2 linked regions of the Homo sapiens genome follow. The protein of the gene in region 2 purifies or fractionates together with the protein of the main gene of each other region. This does not show direct contact. Each region holds a gene or a part of one and is shown on either strand. Other genes may lie near its edges.

Evidence for each region.
Region 1: the proteins of PRODH (region 2) and CAPN11 fractionate together in Homo sapiens (co-fractionation; one large-scale study listed by BioGRID). This does not show direct contact.

Annotation. Positions count from the first base shown.
Region 1 is NC_000006.12:44,178,284-44,183,534, reverse strand, and holds part of CAPN11 (calpain-11), read right to left. Parts: intron 3,917-5,251; coding exon 3,905-3,916; exon of another isoform or gene 3,584-3,904; coding exon 3,372-3,583; intron 3,076-3,371; coding exon 3,036-3,075; exon of another isoform or gene 3,035-3,035; intron 2,939-3,034; coding exon 2,873-2,938; intron 2,788-2,872; coding exon 2,730-2,787; intron 2,603-2,729; coding exon 2,538-2,602; intron 2,284-2,537; coding exon 2,215-2,283; intron 595-2,214; coding exon 516-594; exon of another isoform or gene 506-515; intron 417-505; coding exon 300-416; intron 92-299; exon of another isoform or gene 1-91. UniProt on the Homo sapiens protein: Calcium-regulated non-lysosomal thiol-protease which catalyzes limited proteolysis of substrates involved in cytoskeletal remodeling and signal transduction.
Region 2 is NC_000022.11:18,918,560-18,923,810, forward strand, and holds part of PRODH (proline dehydrogenase 1, mitochondrial isoform 1 precursor), read right to left. Parts: intron 4,621-5,251; coding exon 4,556-4,620; intron 4,375-4,555; coding exon 4,258-4,374; intron 3,846-4,257; coding exon 3,766-3,845; intron 2,865-3,765; coding exon 2,783-2,864; intron 1,240-2,782; coding exon 1,147-1,239; intron 1,039-1,146; coding exon 892-1,038; intron 1-891. UniProt on the Homo sapiens protein: Converts proline to delta-1-pyrroline-5-carboxylate.

The DNA.
Region 1 (5,251 bases), on a different chromosome or scaffold from region 2:
GAGCCAGGCCCAGTTCTGATTGCCTTCCATAGACTAACTGGTTTAACCTGCACCTCAGTCCTTTGAGGGCAGTACTATTATTATCCACATTCTAAAGAGGAGGGAATGGAGGCACAGAAAGATTAAGTGACTTGCTCAAGTCACCTCTGCCAGCAAGTGGCGGAGCTGGGCTTTGAATCCATTTCATGTGTGCCTTGTAAGGGGGAGGGGATCTGGAGCAGCACCCATCAGGGTGGGTGTTTGGGAAAGGGCCCGCGGCCCCTGGCCTAGGCTGGGGAGTGGGTAGATGCCTAACTCACTGAACATGGTCTTTAGCCTCAGGAAACAGCTGATGAAGCTGTCAAAGTCTATGATCAGGTCATCATCTGCATACCTGGCCACCAGGACCTGCATTACCTTGTTGTTCAGCTTGATGCCTGAGAGAGGGAGAGAGAAGTGGGGAGGGGAAAAGTCTGGGCCTCTGGACACTGCCATCCTCTTCCCTGCCCCAAGGCCCACTCCTGACCCTTGGCCACCTGCTTTCTCAATAACCAGGCGCATCTCATAGGAGTTCAAGGTGCCTGAATGGTCCTGGTCACACTCTCTGAAGATGTCCTGAAGAGACAGACAGATATGGTAGGGCCACATGCATGGCATGGTGGTTGAAATAATGAAATACTGAGGCCGGGCGCGGTGGCTCATGCCTGTAATCCCAGCACTTTGAAAGGCCGAGGCAGGCGGATCATCTGAGGTCAGGAGTTTGAGACCAGCCTGGCCAACATGACGAAACCCCGTCTCTAATAAAACTACAAAAATTAGCTGGGTGTGGTGGTGCATGCCTGTAATCCCAGCTAGTCAGGAGGCTGAGGCAGGAGGCGGAGGTTACAGTAAGCAGAGATCGCACCACTGCACTCCAGCCTGGGCAACAGAGTGAGATTCCGTCTCAAAAAAAAGAAAAAGAAATACTTTAGGACAGTTGGCTCACAGCAGTGGCCTAAGACCCCATGCCCCCCTCCAACCCTGGCCCACTCCTGATATTCCTATCATCTGGTGACCTAAGGGTTAATTCCAAGCATGGGTTGTCGGGGGCACTGGTGCCCTGCCCAGCGCTCTTTGTGTGCATCCTTCATGACTAGATGATACCTGAGCTATACTTGTTATAAAATATTTTGACTGGGTAATATGCCACACTCCAACAGACCCTTTTCATGTGTGTGTGTGGTGTGGTTGTGTCTGTATGTGAGTGTGTGTGTGTGTGTGTGTGTGTGTGGTGTGGTTGTGTCTGTATGTGTGTGTGTGTGTGGTGTGGTTGTGTCTGTATGTGAGTGTGTATGTGTGTGTGTGAGTGTGGTGTGGTTGTGTCTGTATGTGAGTGTGTATGTGTGTGTGAGTGTGGTGTGGTTGTGTCTGTATGTGAGTGTGTATGTGTGTGTGTGTGTGGTGTGGTTGTGTCTGTATGTGAGTGTGTATGTGTGTGTGTGTGTGGTGTGGTTGTGTCTGTATGTGTGTGTGTGGTGTGGTTGTGTCTGTATGTGAGTGTGTATGTGTGTGTGTGAGTGTGGTGTGGTTGTGTCTGTATGTGAGTGTGTATGTGTGTGTGTGAGTGTGGTGTGGTTGTGTCTGTATGTGAGTGTGTATGTGTGTGTGAGTGTGGTGTGGTTGTGTCTGTATGTGAGTGTGTATGTGTGTGTGTGGTGTGGTTGTGTCTGTATGTGAGTGTGTGTGTGTGTGGTGTGGTTGTGTCTGTATGTGAGTGTGTATGTGTGTGTGTGGTGTGGTTGTGTCTGTATGTGAGTGTGTATGTGTGTGTGTGAGTGTGGTGTGGTTGTGTCTGTGAGTGTGTGTGTGTGTGAGTGTGGTGTGGTTGTGTCTGTATGTGAGTATGTGTGTGTGAGTGTGGTGTGGTTGTGTCTGTATGTGAGTGTGTATGTGTGTGTGTGAGTGTGGTGTGGTTGTGTCTGTATGTGAGTGTGTATGTGTGGTGTGGTTGTGTCTGTATGTGAGTGTGTGTGTGTGTGAGTGTGGTGTGGTTGTGTCTGTATGTGAGTGTGTGTGTGTGTGTGTGGTGTGGTTGTGTCTGTATGTGAGTGTGTGTGTGTGTGTGTGAGTGTGGTGTGGTTGGGTGTGTGTGTGTGTGTGGTTAGGGCTTGGGTTCTAGCTTCCCCTCATTAGTTCCATCTCTCCTAAGACCCTCTTTTCCTCACCCCTGGAGGCTGCCCCTTTAGTGCCCTTTACCATCCATTTCTTGAGTTTTTTCCACAGGATCTTGAACTCTAGAAGCCCCAGCTTGCCAGAGCCATCTTTCTGGAAGGTGGTCAAGGACAGCAGAGAAGGAGTGAAGAAGGCATCCCAGGGGATAGGGAAGCAGCGGGGGTTCCTGAGGGGACACACAAGCCCTGGGGTTCCGGTACTGTAGCAGCCAGAAGAACTGGCATCTTCTGCTACCCCAGAGCCTAATCCCCATCAGGGAGGAGGACGTGGCTGGCCCAGGGTGGCCATCTCTGGGCCAGGCTTGTGGGCAGGGGACAGGGCCAAGAGAGCACTGGACAGGAGGATACATCCATGAGGTTGATCATGCAGCGGCAAGCATCCAGGCCAAAGCCCTTGGTCTTGAAGCTTTTGACTGTGAGGAAGGGAAGGGGTAGAAAGGAGAGACAGGGTAAATGAGGTATCGTGGGGGCACTGGGAGTGATCAAGAGGGGCACAAAATATGGGGGAGGGGTCGTGTGCAGCAGGAGTGGAAGACTCACATTTGATGGCCATCCTGTTGAGCAGCCTCTGGAGCTCATACACCCCTATCTCCTTGCCCTAGGAAGGGGAACTGTGAACCCCACTCGGGCCCCTCCAGCCCCTCATCCCCCTCCTGTCAGCCCTCCGCTCGTGGCCTGCTCACCTCTCCTGCCACTATCTTAAACAAATGTAGGAAGTCCTGGTCCATGTCATCCTCAGAGACCTTTTCCTGGGGGCCGGGGAGCAGGAAAGGGACCTGGTCAGAAAACTTCTTTCACAGGCCCAGGAGCTTCCTTCCAACCCCCAGCCCTACAGTCTCCCCTCACCTCTTGGAGTTGCTCAGCATAGTTGACTTCATCCAATTCCCTGGGCAAAATGATTGAAAGCTCAAGAGTTACCAGGGGGAGGGAGGTGGGGGTTTTAGTGGGGTGCTCTGGGGGTCATGTCATGTCTTTGAAGCAATATAGGGCAGCTCCATGGAATATGGGTTCTAGTTCTAGTTCTGGTTCTGCCACTAACTGGGACTTCACCTTCTCATGCCTCAGTTTCCCTGACTGTAAAATAGGGACAAAGTGAGGGAGGACCCGACAGCAGCTCCCTGAGCTTGATATCCTGCAGCTCTTGGGTGGCGGGCCTTGGAGCAGTGAGCTGCAGCCCCTTACCATGACTCGCTGTGCTTCTCGGTGAAGACCCGAAGCAGGAAGTCAGCATCTCTGTGTGGCTCAAAGGTGGAGGGAATAATGATATATTCCCCCGGAGGCAGCCGGAGTTGGCTGCTCACCTCCCGTGAGTTGGTGAAGATCTCTGAGAAGCCGTGGTCCTGATACTTCGTGAAGAATTCCTTCTTCAAGTGGACATCCTGAATGTTCTGAAACTATATGCATCCTGGAAGTGGGTACAGGACTGGCATGGGAGGTTAGGGAGGGAGGGTCCCCCAGGGTGAACAGCCTGGCCGGGCAGGGTTGGAGGTAGGTGCCACCACCAACTGACCTGGCCTGGACACCATCTAAGTGGCCCGCAACTCCAACAGGGTCTCTTCCTTTCCCGACCCCTACCAGCCCTGAAGAGGGCTGGAATCCTAACCCAGTGACCCCCAGAGCCTCTCGCCAAATTCCACCCTTTGCCAATCCACTTGCAGCCAGGGGTGGAGTGGGTATGTGTCCAGGAACAAGCCCCACATCTTTATCTTCTGTACCTCTTTTGGGACCTGGGAAGGGAAGAAAGAGGAGAGTCAGATCTCTAGGGTGGTGAAGGGCCTCAGGCCTTCAGAAGCCAAGTGGGATGTGTATAGTGTGTGTCTGTGTGTGTGTGTTGTTGGAGGGGTATTAAGGGCACTGGGATACTGGTGGTGGAGTGGGGCACGGGCTCTGACAGTTCAAAGGTCCTGGCATTAACAATCCCTCTGCTGCAGAGGTGGGAGGATTGCTTGAGCTGGAGGTCAAGGCTGCAGTGAGTCACGATCATGTCACTGCCCTCCAGCCTGGGCAATAGAGTGAGACCCTGTCTCAAAAAAAAAAAAAAAATTCCTTCAGCTTTGGATAGGAAAGTACAGTTTATGCAAGGTAGATTTTTATCATTCCAGGTTAAGGGAAGGAAACAGAATCCCAAAGATGTGAGGTGATTTGTCCAACCTCAGATGGCTGAAAAGTGAAAGAGTTAGGATAAAAATCTAGGACAGTGTTTTGCTTTTCCGTGGAACACTCATATCCTGCAGGAAGTGAATAGAAGATTACTAAAATTGAGGATCGAGGACAAATAAGTTTGTAAAAATGTGAGTTAAACCAAGTTAAACAGGTTGCTCTATTGCAGAGGTGGCTTATCAGCACCTCAGTGTGCTTGTGTGCACCGGAGAGCTCAGGCTGCAGTAGTCTTTCCTGAGCTTTTTTAACCTTGAAGATGTCTTTGAGACAGGGTCTCACTCTGCGCCCAGGCTGAAGAGCAGTGGTGCGATCATGGCTTGCCGCAGCTTCGACCTCCTGAGCTCAAGTGATCCTCTCACCTCAGCTTCTCGAGTAGCTGGGACCACAGGTGTGTGCCACCATGCCCGGCTAATTTTTTTTTTTTTTTTTTTTTTTAATCGAGACAGGGTCTTGCTGTGTTGCCCAGGCTGGTGTTAAATTCTTTGGGCATCCTCCAAGTGATCCTCCCACCTCGGCCTCTCAAAGTGCTGGGATAATAGGCATGAGCCACCTCCCCCAGCAAAAATGTTATCCTGAGGCACCAGTCTGTTAGCCTGGTGGACTAATGGCCCTAAGAGTAGGGCAAGGCTTGTGTCTGTTTTGCTCACTATTGAACCCCTGGAGACTGGACAGGGGCCTGGCACACAGTAGATGCTCCATAAATACTTGCTTATATAAGGGAATGCAAGTGAATGAACAACATTCTTTTGGAGAATGTGGAGAATTTTGCAAAGCATGGTTTGGCTTGGGAAATGCTTATCAGGGCTTTCTCTTGGCTCCTGGAGTGAGTACTGCTGGTGGGGCAGACAAGGGGGATGGATTGTCGGGCGGGGCGTGTGGAGAAGTCTCAGAGCGCCTGGGAA
Region 2 (5,251 bases):
CTGGGCCCAGGTGCAGTCACCAGGGCTGGGCAGCAGCTGCCTGGGGAGGTGCAGCTCAGGGCACCTGGAGCAGGTGTGGGTGAGGATGGGCCTCCAACCTCTGTCCCCAAGGAGCAATGGCAGTGGGGACGTCTGCAACTTCCTGTGTGGCCTGTGGACGGCCCTGTGGGTGCAGCCCAGGCGCCAGCAGCCATCATGTGCTCCAGACTCCCAGGCCGACCGGGAGGGGTGCATACTGCATGCTCCTGCCTGGACCCCTCCCCATGCCACCCTGTGTCCTCTGGGCATCCGGCTCACCCCTGAGAGCTCTGGACCTGCTAACATCCCTGAGCAGTTTGGGGCCCAAAGGCTAGGGTGGGCTCCCTGAATACATGTGACATCCTGGGTGAGTCTTTCCGGGGAGGGCCCAAAGCTTTCAGGAGGTTCTTAGGGGCGCTGAACTGAAAACACGCTGGAGGAAATGGTCATGTGACACCTTCCAAGTTTGGGGTGTCGGGTACATCTAGTGGACCCTCATAAAGATTGTTGTCTTCCTCCTGCTCCTTAGACACTCTTGGCTGGTTCTGAGAACCAGGGGAGAGGTTGCGGGCAGCGGGTCTTTCTTGCTACTCTGAGGCAGTCACCCTGGCCTCAGCCTCCTCTGCAGGCCTGGCTGTGGCCACCACCTAAGGGGCTCTTTCCTGGACCCTGGGGCCCGCTGGGTGAGCTGTGCTGCAGAAGACCCCAACAACCCCTTGGGGGCACGGCCCACTCCCTCCTCCATCCCATGAGCTCCCTGGTGGGTGCTGAGTGTAAAACCAGCCAAATGCCAGGGAGCTCAGATGAGAGGAGCCCCTCCTGTGGGGTCTCCAAGCCCCAGGGCAGGCAGGGAGGGGCTGAGCGGGGGCTTGCCTTGAGGTAGCACTGGTATGTGTTGAAGATGAGCGGCTTCTCCACATTGAACTTCCGCTGCATCTCCAGCGTCAGGCGGCTGATGGCCGGCTGGAAGTAGGTCTGCTCGGCATCCACCATCAGCCGCACGCCCATCTCTGTGGCTTTCTGAGAGGCGCAGGGGGTGGGAGAGTGGGAGCAACTGTTGCTCAAGTGAGGCAGGTGCCCTCTTCTCCACGAGTCCCAGGTACCCTCTGCCCGAGCGGGACAGCTCACCTTGGCCAGGACATCCATCCGCTGTAGCATCCTGGTCATCTGTAGCTCCTCCTCCTCAGTGAACCGGGACAGCAGGGGCTCCAGCTGTCCTGTCTGGGGGTGCAACACGCGGTCAGGCCACAGCAAGGGCGGGAAAGTGCCACCCTGAGGCCCAGGCTAAACCTCTCTCAGTATTCCCAGCCCACAGGAACCCTCTCACCCGTCTGTGCAGGGCTGGGAGGGAGGGCCACCTGGACAAGCAGCACAGTGCCCCTGAACCTCCAACGCAGCCAGTGCACTGCCCTATGCGGGGCCTAGGGGTACCACGAGGGAGCTCAGTGCCCATGTCAGTGGGCCCCAGGCTCAGTCCAGGCCTGCACTCCGAAGTGTGTACTCCCCAGTTCCCACAGAGGCCCCACCGTTGTGGGAGAGCCCCCTGCAACTCCCATGTGACATTGAACAAGTGAACACTGATCACCCAATCGTCAAACAGAAGGGCTCCACCCGGAGCAGGCAGAGGGCCCAGGAGGAAGACCCCTGGCTACAGGCAGACAGGGCAGTTGTGCAGCACGTGCTGACACGTAGCCAGGGACCAGGGCAACCACCAGGATGAGGCCTTCAAGTTGCTGGTGCTCAGAGGCCGTGGGGACCCATCCCGCAGGGCCTCCCGCTCACCCCTTTGCTGGCCCCAGCAGCCTTGCCTCACTGGGCACAAACAGTACCACTCTATCCCTTGCTACACCATGCTAAAGTCTCCAACAGCTGGTGGCCTTGGTGCACAGCCACACTGTACGCACTGCGCCCCGAGGCTCTGGGTCGGGGGCTCTAAGTTTGAGGCTGGGCCCTTAGTGGACTGGGGCTAGATGTGTCATGGAAAGCTGCCTCTGCAGGATGTTTTCTGAAGGTGCTTCTGTTCTTTCTTTGAATCCCAGTTTAAGCTGTGGTTTCAAGCAGTCTGCCAGGTCCTGGGCCCCCCTCCCACAGGCAGATGAGTCTCATTCCTCTCCCCGCTGTATACAGGCTGGCCTGGTGACATGCTTCTAACAAACAGAACTTGCCAGAAAAGACACCGTGTGACTTCTGAGGCGAGGCAGGAAAAGGTCACCCAGCTTCTGCCTGGCTCTCACGTCTCAGGTGACACTGGCCCTTAGAGCCCAGCTGCCATGTTGGGAAAAAGCCCAAGCCACAGCCAGCACCAACTCCCAGACATGTGAATGGGTGCCTCCCCCAGGTCCCAGCGCCACCACTCTGTGAGTACAGCTACCCAGGAGACCCCAGGGGAGGACTGCCCAGCTGAGCCCTGTCAACCCCAGAACCATGAGGCAGAAGCAGAGTGGCTGCTGCCGTTTCAGGCCTCTGAAGTTTGGGGTGACCTGATGCACAAGACAGATGACTTGGGGAAGGCCCCCAGACCCCCTCTCCTTGTGGTGTCTTAAGGCTCCGCGTGGGTCTCTGTCCCGCCAAGCACTCTGTGGACACTAGTGGGCTTGTCTTCTTCCCCCTGGACCACAGGGGGTCTGTGGGGCCATAGTGTGCAGTGATTTTGGTCATGTTAAGTTCCCAGGGTAGGCAACAAGAGACACACGTGGCAGGCTGAATTCCCTTCTTAGCGCAGCGCCCTGCTGAGCTGGGCCTCACTGAGGAGCGGAGGTGTTACCTGTGCGTTGGGGACTACCAAGTGCTTGGACAGCTTGGTCCTGCTGTCGATGAGGCTGCTCCAGTCCAGCAGGTCCATGGTGCTGAGGGAGGAGGCGCATCAGCAGAGGGGGCACCCCCACCTGTGGGTGCTAGGGTCGGGTGGGGGATCGAGGCCCAAACCTGTCCGTTCACCACCCACCACAAAACCCACCTCGGTGTTCAGTTTTAAAAGACAGAGGAAATATAAATATTGTTTTCTGTTTAAAAATTTAAAACCAGTGGCATGCGGGGGCTCAAACTTATAATCCCAGCACTTTGGGGGCTGCGGCGGGCAGGTCACTTGAGCCCAGGGGTTTGAAACCAGCCTGGGCAACATGGTGAGACCTGGTCTCTATAAAAAATAAATTAATTAAATAAATTTAAAACCAAAACACAAACAGTCCTGCATCTAGGCGGCTCTGAAAACACTGAGTACCCTAGGCTGTTTTGGGCTTGTGGAGGGGCCGAGCACAGGCAGCCAGGCAGGAGGCGGACACAGCTCCGGGCGGCCAGGGAGGACACAGTGGGCAAGGCTGGCAGTGTGTGAGGGGATGGCTCACTACTGCACCACCCCAGTCACCTCCCCACTTCAACTGGAGGCTCCTGGTGATCTGGGTCCCAGCCCCTGGCTCCAAGGATGGGGCATGGGGCTCTGATCCTTCACCTGCCGGCGTGGACTCCAGGGAGGGCTGAGAGTGCCACCTTTGCTCTGGACCCAGATAATTCTATAAAGAGCCCTCTATGGGGTCTGTGCTGGCCCTGTGTCTCCCCTGCCCAGCCCAGCCCCAGCCTCAGGGACTCCTGAAGCCATCAAGTCCTGCTGTGTGAAAAGCAGTTCCTTCAGCACTGTCATCCCAGGGCCCACCCTCTCAGGCAGGGCAGCCAGGACTGGGAGACGTCACTGGGGCTTGGCTGGAACCATGGCTGATGCTCGTGTCCTCTCAGCCTGGGGGCTGCTCTCACCCAGACACTCCCAGGGTCTCTGCCGTGAACCAGTCCTCAATCTCAGCCCTGGATGCGATGCCCAACTTTGCGACACTTTCCTTGAGAAGTGAGAAGGCCTGGATCAGCCCCATTCACTCATATTTTATCCTTCCCCCCACCCATTGGCCTCTGGTGCTGTTTCTGGCTTTATTACATCGTTAGTAAGAACAGGATCCATGTCTGGTTTGTTTCTACTGCATAGACAGGTCTATTCCCACCCCGCTGCTGATGCACGCCCACGCCCTGCAGGGCTGGGTCTCCAGCCCTCCTGCCAGCATCTCCCCTCTCTGTTCAGAGTCCCTCTGACCTCCTCCTCCCCACCAGGCCAACCCCAGCAGCTGCAGAGTGAGCCACATGCCCTGGGTGAGTTCCCAAAACCACCTCCGACCACTGCCCACCATGCCCCGTGTGACCCCACGGTGCCCACCCCCTCACAAGCCACAGGAGTGGGGAAGGGGAAGGCTGCCCCACCTGCAGCACCGCCACCTCCAGCTTGGTGTCCATGGCAGCCAGGCCCGCCTGCCCTTGCTCCACAGCCATTTGGTGAAAGAAGCACCTCCACTTGGCCAGCACCTCTGAGAACTGCAGCTGCAAACGCAGGCCTGAATGCCATCTGCACACGCCCCTGCCCACCCCAGTCCCCCACACAGCCCCTGTGGCCAGCTCAGGCCTCTAAGGCATGGGCACCTGTGTTTTTGGTGGATGCCCACAGCTGCCCTGAGATCTCGCACAGCACCAGACTCTGCAGGTGGAAGGTTCTAGCACTTACCAGAAACTGGGGTCTCCCCAGTGCTGTGAGCTTAATGGCTATGAAGCCGTCATCGCTGACTCTACCTGTCAGAAGCCACAGGAAAAGCCATGACAGCCCTGAGAGGTGCATGGAGGCAGCGCAGGGTGCGACAGGGAGGGCCAGGGCCTGGCCAGCCCACAGCAGGCTCCTGACCCCACCCCACCCCGCCCATGAAGTCCTTGCACATGGCGCTCTAGAGGCCCTGTGGAGATGGGAGGGGGCTCCGTGGCGGGGTTTCTGTTTCCATGCAGGTGTGGGACAGCAGTGGGCACAGGAGCTGCCTGTCCCCTGCCAAGCAGCCCCCACAGGCTCCCTGCCTCGGTTTCCTTCCCTGTGCCACCAGCACCACAGGCTGCTCACACGTGGGTCACAGGACCCAGAAACACCGAGCGTGGCTAAGACAGAGACACCCCAGCGAGGTCCCCTTGCTCAGGCCTCTGCCCCAGAGACCGAGTCTCTCAGGAACCTCTGACGCAAGCGCAGGCTCCTGCCCCCGTGCAGCCAGCCCGCAGTCCCACCCTGTCCTCCAGGCCAGCCCTCCTGCAGCATTCTTGCCCCTGACACTTCTTTCCAAGCAACAACCAGAAATGTTCCTTTAAAGTGAAAGCAGATCTTACCATCTCATCTTGTTTCACGCCACCCCAATGCAGGGCCTTCCCCTTCCACCTGCCCTGG